Regions from separate parts of the Homo sapiens genome. Here regions 1, 2 and 4 are each reported to be linked to region 3. Evidence: microRNA targets listed by miRTarBase, many of them from high-throughput screens and not tested one by one. Region 3 holds a microRNA gene; each other region holds the end of a gene's coding sequence.

Evidence for each region. The annotated mature microRNA hsa-miR-4287 reads UCUCCCUUGAGGGCACUUU and lies in region 3 at 1,894-1,912, shown strand. An mRNA with a match to its seed (bases 2 to 7 or 8) in the 3' UTR can be bound and repressed. Matches are read on the target gene's strand: a 7mer-m8 pairs with bases 2 to 8, a 7mer-A1 pairs with bases 2 to 7 and ends in A, and an 8mer does both.
Region 1: the mRNA of TMEM74B is a reported target of hsa-miR-4287. Seed matches in the 3' UTR shown: 7mer-A1 at 466-472.
Region 2: miRTarBase lists LRIG1 as a target of hsa-miR-4287. Seed matches in the 3' UTR shown: 7mer-m8 at 1,656-1,662.
Region 4: the mRNA of VTI1A is a reported target of hsa-miR-4287. The part of its 3' UTR that is shown has no 7-base or 8-base seed match.

The regions. Positions count from the first base shown.
Region 1 is chr20:1,178,045-1,181,170 of GRCh38, reverse strand. TMEM74B (transmembrane protein 74B) reads left to right here. Exons shown (of 3, transcript NM_001304748.2): 3 at 1-601. The coding sequence ends at 323. LOC124904855 (a long non-coding RNA gene) reads right to left here. Exons shown (of 2, transcript XR_007067486.1): 2 at 1,219-3,126. Among named protein-coding and RNA genes, the nearest start is that of TMEM74B, 5.4 kb to the left of the region's middle.
Region 2 is chr3:66,377,620-66,380,745 of GRCh38, reverse strand. LRIG1 (leucine rich repeats and immunoglobulin like domains 1) reads left to right here. Exons shown (of 19, transcript NM_015541.3): 18 at 1-169; 19 at 257-1,949. The coding sequence ends at 483. SLC25A26 (solute carrier family 25 member 26) reads right to left here. Exons shown (of 10, transcript NM_001379210.1): 10 at 1,823-3,056. The coding sequence ends at 2,939. Among named protein-coding and RNA genes, the nearest start is that of LRIG1, 120 kb to the left of the region's middle.
Region 3 is chr8:27,884,874-27,887,999 of GRCh38, reverse strand. It overlaps MIR4287 (microRNA 4287), which reads left to right and starts at 1,884; the gene lies at 1,884-1,961. All of the region lies in intron 7 of SCARA5 (scavenger receptor class A member 5), which reads left to right.
Region 4 is chr10:112,814,850-112,817,849 of GRCh38, forward strand. It overlaps VTI1A (vesicle transport through interaction with t-SNAREs 1A), which reads left to right. Exons shown (of 8, transcript NM_145206.4): 8 at 441-3,000. The coding sequence ends at 534. Among named protein-coding and RNA genes, the nearest start is that of LINC02935, 75 kb to the right of the region's middle.

The DNA of each region.
Region 1 (3,126 bases), not on the chromosome of region 3:
ATCCGGACACAGTGACAGCGCGGGAGATGGAACGACTGGAGATGTACTACGCCCGCCTAGGCTCCCACCTGGACAGGTGCATCATCGCAGGCCTCGGGCTGCTCACGGTGGGCGGCATGCTCTTGTCGGTGCTGCTCATGGTCTCCCTGTGCAAGGGCGAGCTGTACCGCCGGAGGACCTTCGTCCCCGGCAAGGGCTCCAGGAAGACCTACGGCTCCATTAACCTGCGCATGAGACAGCTCAATGGGGATGGGGGCCAGGCCCTGGTGGAGAATGAAGTTGTCCAGGTCTCAGAGACTAGCCACACCCTCCAGAGGTCTTAAGAACTAGCCCACCTTATCTGGCTGCTTTAGCTCCAGTGCTACAAGGTCCACCCCCTGCTCCCGCCCACCTGACCCCTGCCAAGGCCCTGGGGTTTTAAACTGAGCTCACATAGGGCCTTGTGGAAGAAGTACTGGGTGCTGGAGGGAGAGCTCGGGGCCCAGCCCATGCCCCACACGGGCAAGCAGCCCACTGATCTGTTTTGTAGCTGAGGTTTTGCATACGGTTTTGTTTGGAGGATGGCTTCTGCTGCTAAAAATACAAAAGTTTGGAAACCGCTGCTCTTGGAGGATGAGGTTTCTTGGCATTTCTCAAGATTGGGAGCTGTTTGAAAGGTTGCCCATCCTCTTCCCTCATGCCTTGGGGAGTGAGGGACCTCTGCTGTCCTTATTGGCTGAGTGAGGGTGTTGATTGGCCGTGGAGGGGTCCCTTTCAGCCCTGATCATCTAAGGTGGGGGAGGTGGCTTCATGATGAGGGGAGAAGTCAGCACCAGAGTGACCCCCAGTACCCCCACTGACTAAACTGTGATCCTACCCTCACCAGGCCTCAGTTGCCCTGCCTTCAAGTGAGGGGGTTGGACTGGATGACCCCTCAGGTCCCTCTAGTTCTTCCCTGGGAATGGGAACCCAGTCTCTATCTCCAGTCACCCCTCCAGGGCAGGAAGGCATCCACCAGGCACTAACCATTCTCCCTGCCATTTTCTGGCCTGACCTCAGGGACCACCACAGCCAGCAGCTCTCATGGTCTCAGGGAAGAGCTCCCTGGTGGGGTTGGGTTCAGTTCAAAGTTTGCTACAGCCTGGTTTTGGTCTTGGGGTCTAATTTCCTGCAGTGACACATTTTTACAAAGCCAAGTGCACAATATTACCCAGTTCTCTGGGCAAGAAGGATCTTTTACACAGGAAAGGGTGAGGGCTTTATTGTATTTCTGTGGGCATGATGCAGGCCTTGATCACCTTCTCCTCCATAGTATGTCTCTTGCTCCTGACCTTATTTGGATAACAGGAAAAAAAAAAATTTATGCTGAATTTGTAACCTTAGTCTCCCTCATATAGTAGTAAAGTGAAGCCACAGTTTATTTGGGGGAGAAATCAGGCACATTTGGGTGGCCTGGACACGCTGGCCACATTGCCATTTGTGTTTTTCTTATGAAATGTTTCTAGGTTCCTGCAGACTTTCTTTAAACTCTTGGTAAGGAAAGGAAGTAGGCCCTGGGGCAAGGAGATACAGGTGTTTGAGGACTGTGGGGAGGCATCCTTCAGTCTGAATGGACCCAGAGGGCTTTGAGAGCACATGCCTTCTAAGCCACTGGTGTAGAGACCCTACAGGAGCCATTTTAGTGAATCCCCTGCCCAATGTAGGTCCTACTTACTCCATCTCAGTTGGCCACATGGGCCGAGGATCCTGTTCCTTGGGGGTGGGAGGGTGGGGGGGCATGGGGTCTGTAGTGTAGAGAGGCCCTGATTAGCTGTAACTTGAGCCTTCAGTCCAGTGAGTTAAACATCTGGGGAGTGTAATATCACAGCTTCTATGACAGATCAAATATCTGCTCCTACTGGTAGGTTTTACCAAGAGCAGAGAGCTAGAGGAAGACTGGAAAGGACAAGGGTTGTTTAGCTTGGCTTCCCAGGTTTTTGTTGTGGTATTGAAGGGGTATGGTGTGGAAAGAGCAAAGCTCCAAGATGGTAAAAGATTCACAAGTCCTAGGCTTCCACTGTTGTGTCGCTTTCTCCCAGGCTCCAAGTAGGCACAGCCACAGAACGTGGCATGAGCTGTTCTAAGTAAACTACATAGGATTGGACATCCCAAATCATGGGCTAAGGCTTTTCAATCCATAATGATAATTAAAAAAATATCAACCAAGTCATATGGATTACTGTGATGGTGGCAGACTCATTTGGATACTAAACCTGTTGAGTGAATGCATCTGGGACCATCAGTTCATATCAGTTTAAATGCAATGAGTTTATTTAGGGGAGAAATTGGGCATATTTGGGTGGCCTGGACATGCTGGCCGCACTACCATTTGTTTTTTTCTTACGAAATGTTTGATGTTAATCATCAAACAGATTTAGGGGCTAAATCTGTTTGATGATTAAATCCCAGGAGTCTCAGGTTTTTCTAAGCCAGAGAAGCCTGCTTTGCATTCTAATGTTGAAAGTCCTTTAGAAAATGTGTATAATGGACTGAGGCGTTATTACCTTGTCAGTGAATTAAGAAAACTTAAGAGATGACAAAAGCATTTCCCCATGATTACAGCTGAGATCTGCCAGCTGATGGATCAGAAACAGGTTTAAGGAGGAGGTGATTAGGAACACGGAGTAGGATGCTGAGAACTTTCTTTGCAGGCATTCCAGGGGCCTCTGTGGTTACTGGAATGTGCCTCTCCTCCAGGAACTGCCTCTCCCACCTAACCTGCTCCTAGGGCCCCAAACCTTGCTTTTCCTGGTGCATCAGAACAGATACCGATTTTGGAGTTGGTAAGACTAAAGTTGGAATCCAGGCTCTGCCACTTACTGGCTGTGTGACCTTGGGCAAGTTACTCCACCTCTCTGAGTCGGGATTTCTCTATCTGTGAAGTGGGATTAATGAAAGCTCTGCCTCAGGGTGGTGGTGCAGATTACAGATAAAATGGAGAACTGCATAGTATGAGGTCCAGGGATGATGATGCTCTCCTTCCCCACCTCAACTGGGGATAGCTGGATTAGGCCTCAAACGCTGTGGTCAACCCTTCTGCCTTTCTTCTATCACACCTCACATTCCAGATCAGCGCATCTTGTCAGCTCCACTTTCAGAATCTGATTG
Region 2 (3,126 bases), not on the chromosome of region 3:
AATGGCCCGGAGCCGGGTGGGAGTGACCAAGAGCATTCTCCACATCACCAGTGCAGCAGGACTGCCGCTGGGTCCTGCCCCGAGTGCCAAGGGTCGCTCTACCCCAGTAACCACGATAGAATGCTGACGGCTGTGAAGAAAAAGCCAATGGCATCTCTAGATGGGAAAGGTAACTTTTGACTGTCTTCTAACAGGTGGGTTGGGAGCTGCTTAAACGGTCAAGTGGGGGTCTGACAGGTTCGTTCTTTCCTTGTAGGGGATTCTTCCTGGACTTTAGCAAGGTTGTATCACCCGGACTCCACAGAGCTACAGCCTGCATCTTCATTAACTTCAGGCAGTCCAGAGCGCGCGGAAGCCCAGTACTTGCTTGTTTCCAATGGCCACCTCCCCAAAGCATGTGACGCCAGTCCCGAGTCCACGCCACTGACAGGACAGCTCCCCGGGAAACAGAGGGTGCCACTGCTGTTGGCACCAAAAAGCTAGGTTTTGTCTACCTCAGTTCTTGTCATACCAATCTCTACGGGAAAGAGAGGTAGGAGAGGCTGCGAGGAAGCTTGGGTTCAAGCGTCACTCATCTGTACATAGTTGTAACTCCCATGTGGAGTATCAGTCGCTCACAGGACTTGGATCTGAAGCACAGTAAACGCAAGAGGGGATTTGTGTACAAAAGGCAAAAAAAGTATTTGATATCATTGTACATAAGAGTTTTCAGAGATTTCATATATATCTTTTACAGAGGCTATTTTAATCTTTAGTGCATGGTTAACAGAAAAAAATTATACAATTTTGACAATATTATTTTTCGTATCAGGTTGCTGTTTAATTTTGGAGGGGGTGGGGAAATAGTTCTGGTGCCTTAACGCATGGCTGGAATTTATAGAGGCTACAACCACATTTGTTCACAGGAGTTTTTGGTGCGGGGTGGGAAGGATGGAAGGCCTTGGATTTATATTGCACTTCATAGACCCCTAGGCTGCTGTGCGGTGGGACTCCACATGCGCCGGAAGGAGCTTCAGGTGAGCACTGCTCATGTGTGGATGCCCCTGCAACAGGCTTCCCTGTCTGTAGAGCCAGGGGTGCAAGTGCCATCCACACTTGCAGTGAATGGCTTTTCCTTTTAGGTTTAAGTCCTGTCTGTCTGTAAGGCGTAGAATCTGTCCGTCTGTAAGGCGTAGAATGAGGGTTGTTAATCCATCACAAGCAAAAGGTCAGAACAGTTAAACACTGCCTTTCCTCCTCCTCTTATTTTATGATAAAAGCAAATGTGGCCTTCTCAGTATCATTCGATTGCTATTTGAGACTTTTAAATTAAGGTAAAGGCTGCTGGTGTTGGTACCTGTGGATTTTTCTATACTGATGTTTTCGTTTTGCCAATATAATGAGTATTACATTGGCCTTGGGGGACAGAAAGGAGGAAGTTCTGACTTTTCAGGGCTACCTTATTTCTACTAAGGACCCAGAGCAGGCCTGTCCATGCCATTCCTTCGCACAGATGAAACTGAGCTGGGACTGGAAAGGACAGCCCTTGACCTGGGTTCTGGGTATAATTTGCACTTTTGAGACTGGTAGCTAACCATCTTATGAGTGCCAATGTGTCATTTAGTAAAACTTAAATAGAAACAAGGTCCTTCAAATGTTCCTTTGGCCAAAAGCTGAAGGGAGTTACTGAGAAAATAGTTAACAATTACTGTCAGGTGTCATCACTGTTCAAAAGGTAAGCACATTTAGAATTTTGTTCTTGACAGTTAACTGACTAATCTTACTTCCACAAAATATGTGAATTTGCTGCTTCTGAGAGGCAATGTGAAAGAGGGAGTATTACTTTTATGTACAAAGTTATTTATTTATAGAAATTTTGGTACAGTGTACATTGAAAACCATGTAAAATATTGAAGTGTCTAACAAATGGCATTGAAGTGTCTTTAATAAAGGTTCATTTATAAATGTCAGTATAGTTGGTGGTCCTTCTTTTACAAACGCAGTCATTCTGCCTTTAATTATCTTCCCCCAAAAAAGAAAAAAAAAATAGGCGAAGCAAAATCACATACTGTTTGTTTGCTCCAGGGCAGACAACACTGCTAGATTCCTGACATTTTGTTTTGAATTTTTCTACACCTGGAGCTTGTTAGTCAAGGTCTAAAATCCCTAAGTGTGGTGACCTTTCCATTTCATCCTGCCTTTTCAAAGCTGGCCCAGGCCCTCCTTTCAGTCTGACATGAGAATGGCGAGAATGGCTCACCCACCGTGCCCTCCTGCACGAAGCCAGCTGGGCCCACCTAGTCACTTGAGTTGCAGCTGCTTTCTCTCACACACCACAGGGGGCGCTGGACACATCTCTGTAAAATAATACAATTGTGCGTTTTTATGGGTGAAATCTGAGGGTAATTAAAACCAGCAGCCTAGTTACCCAGAAAGAGTGCTTGCTATGCACCTGTAGTTCAATCTTTCTTTCTTTTTCAACAAAGCCTACCCTTACACAACAGGAATTAACTAGGGGGAGAAACACCCACATACACAACTCTTCCCCAAGTCTCCTTTTCCCAAACAAACAAACAAGCTATTCTTTTAGAATTATAACCATCTTGCCTTCTGCTGAATCCACCATCAGGTGGCAGGAAATGAAAGATCAGATACAGATCAAATGAAAGCTCTAAAAGGCCTGGCCTCAGCATTACCAAACTTATTTATTAAGAGGTTCTGAGGAAATTGTTCAGAGTACCGCCACAGACCCCGTTTTCTTCTCTTAGCTCTCTGGCATACAGGCCAATGACTTCATACCAGCCAGCCTATACCACGGATGGCACAATCTCCATGCCGGTATCTTAGCACAACTGGTCTTCAGCACTGGGGCCTATAGTTCAGACAGCTGCTCAGCGGAAGAGGGTTTGCACTGCAGGCCCCTCTCTTGACAGAAGTGGAGGTGAGGCTTGTCTCTGCTTCAAGGACTCTTTCTGCCAACTTCCAACAGCAAGCTGTGCGTTCGGTCATAAGCCCCCAGAAAGATGAAACCTCCCAGACTGATGGCTGCCATTCGAGGGAAGACACCTGCAAATAATCTAGGGGAAAAAACAGGATTTTTAATGTTGTGCGTATTTTAAAAAAAGGTTAAATTCCAATACCCACAGC
Region 3 (3,126 bases):
TTGGTTCTGGGTTTCTGAAAAACATCCAGCTGGGTTTCTGAAAAACACCTCAGGGACATATGTTAAGATGTTCTCTTTAGTTTCTATAGAGAGTCATCAGAGGTTGACTCTAACTTCTTTGACTATTGCTTTAAGCTACTATTTCTTTCTTTCTTACCAAGTTGCTCATTTACTTCTTGGGGCTAGCCTAGAATTTCCCTTGAAGATACTCAAGATTTTCTTTTATTTCCATGTTTGGGGGCCTAGCAGCCCCTAAGTCCCTGCTCCATCTCGGGCTTGTGGTCCCCAGTTCTGGGGAAGCAGGGAAAAGATGAACAGAGATGAGCCCTGTGGATATCTGGGTGTCTCTGCTATGGGGGGCAGGGGTGGGCATTACAAGAAAAAGCTCTGCCAAAGCCTTGTGGGATGGGGATTGGAATAAGCTGTCAAGAACAGCCTCTCCTTGTTTTTAGTAAGGAATAGCTCTTGGTGTTTCCCTTCAGCTTGGGTTTTCCAGCCAAGTGATGCTATGTGCCGGTGCCATTCCTGCACAGAGCTGGTAGGGACCAGCCTTGTAGCCAGTACCATCCTCTTAACTTGCAAACCATGAAGGCATGGACAGGTAGACCCCAGTCTGCAGGTTAGGGATCCAGAACAAGAGGAAAAGTGTGATAGTCTCTGCACCTAACGCCCTCACCTGAGGGGTGCAAATCAGATACCCACACGGGAGTGGTATGGGGCAGGGTTTTCTTCCGGGTTGCTGATCCTCATTTGCTCAGGAAGGGTTTTCCAGGGCTCAATGTGGTATGATGCCAAGGAGGAGGTGAAGGTGCCTCGCAGTCATTGAAGGGCAGTTACTAGGGGACGTGGCTGCAACCTCGAAAGCCTGGGGTCCCATTGCTCATCACCAGCTCTCTTGCCCTTTGCCCTCTACCTGGAGCATCTGCTCTTGCTTTGGAGCCTAGGAGTCTCTGAATTTCACACAATCAAGAATCCCTGTCTCCCATTTTCCTCCACTGCCACGTGCAGAGAGAGGCATCTCCCTGACTCCAGTAGCCCCGTTCCCCCTGCAGGGACCCTCCTGGGGGGCATCTGAGGAAAAAACTCCCTGGACTGACAGGAAGAGTCTTGGGGAAGTCACGGACCAGGCTGAGGCTGCCTCTCAGTCACCACTTCTGATTAAGTCGGGGCTGACACATTGTGGGGCAAGAGCATTTCCCAGTGGTGGTTGGTGGCTTGGTGGGAAAGCTTTGACCTGGGGCAGAAACTGCCGGGAAAAAGCAGCATTTAAACCCTCTGCCCACAGAAACCCAAACCTCTTAAATGATGACGTCCTTCTCAGGCTAGAGGGTAGTCACTGTTGGAGGGCGTTGGTGATTCCCCAAGTGTGTTGCTGGAGGTGGCCTCATTGCTCAGCTCTGGGAAAGGCTCCTGCCTGCCTGCCTCCCCTATACCTCTTCAGGGGTAAAGGAGGCCAGAGACACAAGTTTCTGAATTTAGACTCTGAGTTCCTGAATCAGGGCAGCCTACATCATAAGCAAGTCAGACCTCAGCCTGTGGTTTCCCAGAGAGGTGGTAACAGAGCTGAGATTTTGTTGGGTGGGGAGAAAAGGATGCAAAATCCACAGCTTAGGGCCATGCTCTGTGAAGTGGAGCTACAACAAAATGTGGCCTCTGATTTGGGTGAGTCCAGGGGAGAAGGTGTGGCTTTCAGATTTGTGTTGACCCTGCTGGGGCAGGCAGCATCTGTTGACCCTGTGGGCAGGCGGCCCTCCACCATGGGGGGAAGCCCTGAGTCTAGGGGATCTGGGGACAGGTGGTGAGGAACAGGCCTCCATGCTTAATGAACCGACACTGGGGTCTGGGTGGAGTGGTGCCTTGTGCAGCCTCGCCCAGGTGCTCTCTAGTTCTTTTTCTCCCTTGAGGGCACTTTTCAGTTCCTGAGATCAATGTGGTCCCTACTGGGGAGACCATAGGAGCCCTGCAGGCCATGACTTTGCTCAATGCATGGTAAGCATGGGCCATGGGCCAGAGACATCCTTGAAATTGATGCTTTGCATCCCGTGATTATGGTTATCATATGTTTTCAATTTTTTGAAGGTGTCTTGTTTCCAAATATTCTTCTATCACTTCTATATACATTGAAACCTCTTGGGAATTTCAGTATTTCAGCATCCAAATGACATTTTCCAGACTTCCCATTGCACCCACCATGATCATCTGACAGCCATGTCCCCATTCTCTCACTTGAGATGTACGGTCATTGTAACAGCCTGAGCTCTGGGTCCAGAATCCAGAGTCATCTCAAGTAGAGAAGGCAGCAAGTATGTGATTAGAAGTGTTGTGATGTAATAAAGAGGATGCTGGAGATTTGGGGCCCTGATGTTGGATTCTCCATTCAGGTTGCCACCAAAGCCCTGGACTCTGGGGAGCCATGCCCTCCAGCCAGCACCTGCCCATCTGGGTCCATATTAATGAGTCCCTCCATTCATGCATGCCTTCCCTTTGCACAGGCTGGGTATCTCAGTGCACCGGGCCCTGTACCAGGTCACGTGATCCTCAGAAGGCTCACAGTGTCCTAAGAGAGTAAATAGCAATAGCAATTATGACACAAAGCTATAAGCATGTACCTAGAAGGGGCCCTGTTGGGTGTGGGGACCAGGGAAGGAGAAGAGGCATCTAAGCTGAGATCTAAAAGACAAGGAAAGCTTAGGCCAGAGTACAGAAAGGAGTTTTCTGAGGTGGGGGAGTCCACGTCCTTCCTCAGCTCATTCAGGTCTCCACTCAAGGCCTTCCTTCTCTACTCGTCCAAAATGGCACCTGCTCTCACTCCCCACCCTCTTCCTTGTTCACTTGTCCAAGACAGTACCTGCCCTCTCATTCCCTCCCTTGTCCACCTGTCCAAGATGGTGCCTGCCCTCTCTCTCATTTCCTTCCTTGTCCACTCGGCCAAGATGGTGTCTGCCCTCTCTCTCATTTCCTTCCTTGTCCACCCGGCCAAGATGGTGCCTGCCCTGTCTCTCATTTCCTCCCTCCTCCACTTGTCCAAGATGGCGCCTGCCCTCACTCTCCACTCCTTTGTTCACTTGCCCACAATAGTGCCTGCCTCACTCTGTACTCCCTGTGCTTCTGTTCCCATCTATGCTC
Region 4 (3,000 bases), not on the chromosome of region 3:
CAGGTAAGTACATTGCTGACATGTGTTTCCTTGGAGTATTTTACTTTAACAGGAAACACTGCAAAAAATGAGGCTTGTCTCGCCTTTTAAATTAGAAAGAGAAGCTCGCAAGGGGCCCTTGATCACTTAAAGAGGCTACATGATTTTCTGAGCCTCGAAAGCCATTTGATTCGCCTTAGCTTTGCAGTAAGCATTTCTCGGAGGGCAGCGTGACAATCATGTGGAGCCTTTCGTTTCCTCGTGGATCGTTTGTAGAACCAGAAAGCTGCGTGATGTCTCTTTCGCGCGCGCACACACACACACACACACACACACACACACACGCTCCCCACCCCCACCTGCAAAGCTGCCGTTTGATTAGCCAACCTGGCCTCGGACGGCGTTTGTGGGAAGGCCTTCCACTTATCTGTGTGTGTTTTTTCTCCTTTGCTGTCTCCTAGAATCATCCAGAACCGCATCCTGCTCGTCATCCTAGGGATCATCGTGGTCATCACCATCCTGATGGCGATCACTTTTTCTGTCAGAAGACACTGATGTATCTGCTCTCCCTTGATAAACAGCAACAACAGCTTGTTCTGAGTAATTAAGACAAAATGGTCACATGAATCATTCTGTTGCGCTGACAGGCCCCAGGTGACCCTCTCTCTCCCTCACCGCCGTTGGGCTGAAGTGCAAAGAGTGTAAAAATATTTTCTATTCCTGTTTGCATGTGGGTTGGTTTCCTTTTCGAGGTTTGTCTTCACCCAGATTCGTTTTTTAGAGGGGAAGGTGAATGTTTATTTACCTTTTTGCTAATGTCATCAACTAGCCAAAATAGCCCCAGTGACACTCCTAGCCCTCTGGACGTGTCAAGGGCCGTGGTTTGGGAGAGGACATGATGAGTCAGTCACGAGAGCTTCTGTTTGTCACCCGCCTCTTGTTGCTGAAAAGCTCTTCTGTGATGTCTGAGGATAAAAATGCAGCAAAAAGCAGGGGATGGAGTCAGTGACCCCGTCCAGCAAGCCAGCCCTGTTCCTACACAGGCCTCATGAATATAGTCATCAACCTGCCTGAGTGCTTTCATTGTAAAGGTCGGTATTTAATGTCGGTTGTACAGGAAATTGACTTAGCACTTTCCCTGTTTTTCTATTGCATAATTTTTTTTTTAACCCAAAGATATTTTTTTTGCTGAGCCTGCCCAGTATTCACTGTTCACAACTTTGATTACTGGCTACAAGAAATATTTTCTTGCCTTCCCCAAATCCCATACTCCCCAGAATCTGCTGGCAAAGTGAGCCCTGGTACAGGATTTAATTGTGACCTCGTCTTCCCTGACCTGTGTAAGCATCTCTGTATCCTTTCGGTTTTAATATCTGCACTGCCAAAAGCAGTCCTCATACTTGCAAAAGGTCTGACAAGGTTCTCTCCACATACATTCCAGTATGTAAAGAGACCATGAATATTTCAGTAAGAGCAAGAACATGACTCCATCAGTGTGAAATTTCAAATGTGATTATAAATATGGGAGAGTCCTATAGGAGGGTCCACCAGAGATAAACTTCACGGAAAACGTTCCCTAACCTCCTTTAAAAGAATAGAGGATGGCAGATTGTTCCAAAAGGAATGGCTTGGGTTTTTAACTAACAAATGTTAGCAAGCCTTTCTTGAATTCACTATGTATTCAAACTTCTAATATGCTTTGTGATTTTTTTCTTTCATTTCTTTCTGTCTGAGGTAACCAGGAATTGCGTTCAAAATGAGCTCATTTGTGATCAGGCTTAAAAGTTGCCCAAGCTGAGGTCGTTTCCCCCCAGTCACAAAGCAGAATGTTTTTCTCAAGACTTCATAGGCACTTACTGGTCCGTACTATCTTTGGAATATAATTAGAAGCTTTGAATCCTTGAAAAGCAAACCTGTTCTCTTCATCAAAAATGCTAACCACCTGTGCCCGTGGATCAATATCACCTGGATGTAGTGCTTGATATTTTTCCCAACTCAGAAGAAAACCATTATGGTTTAGAGAGGAAATGCAGAATGGCAGAATCCACCAGAGAAATTGCACTTATCGAAACAGGCCAAGGCCTGCATGTGTTCGGATAAATCATTTAGTATTGTGTAAATAAAGCTGCAGCCTTTACTTCGGAGGGATGGTGTGGGATTTTGGCCGAGGGAAGCAGGACAGAGAAGGAGCAGGAAGCTATGCTAATTTTCCTGTCAGCTTAAGGGATCCGTCTCAGCAAGAATCTTGTATTCTGATAACGGAATGCTGTACGTGCTGACCACATCTAAGAACCATTAAAAAGCAAGGAAACAAACAAACAACCCTTTTCTCATTCCGACACACGAATAGTCATCGAGTATTACACCAGCCCCTCTGGTGGCTTCCTTCAAAACTGTTGATCTTAGCTAAAGTGTATAACCAGTTACCAGCTGCACTTCGCACGGCCATCCCGTCCACAATGCAGCAGACTCTTCCCAAGGCCACCTAGCAAGCAAGGTTGATCGGATCATCTAAACTGGCCGCCTCCTGAATATTTCACTGAATCCTGGCGTTCATGTTGAAGCAGACAAAATGAGAAAGGAGGAGGGCATTGCTCACCTCTCAATAGCTTTTTTCGTTCAAGTTCTATGTCTTTATCAGCTCTTGCCTGTGATTTTACCCCAATTCAACCTTGGGAGTGGGAAGAATATGAACAGATAACCCTTGGCCTAACAGCTCCATCAAACCTCCTTGAGAGCAACTACCTAGGCCAGGCTAGTGAGTGCTTTGTGAGGAAGCTGGTCAGAAGGTTCCCTCAACTCCTTCCTGGTCCTCCTGGACACTGCAGAAAAGACTTAGGGGATCCCCAGCAGAGGCCAATTGCTCTCCTTCCTTCCCTGCCCCACCAGGAAAGGAATAACGTCCACAGACTTGAAGCAGATAGTGAAGTAGATCTGTGAGAGGTTCTAGGTACTTAGTGTGTAGACTTTGACGAATATTTCTCAAGTTGGGAGCCCTTGTTAAAAATGATGTTTAAGGGA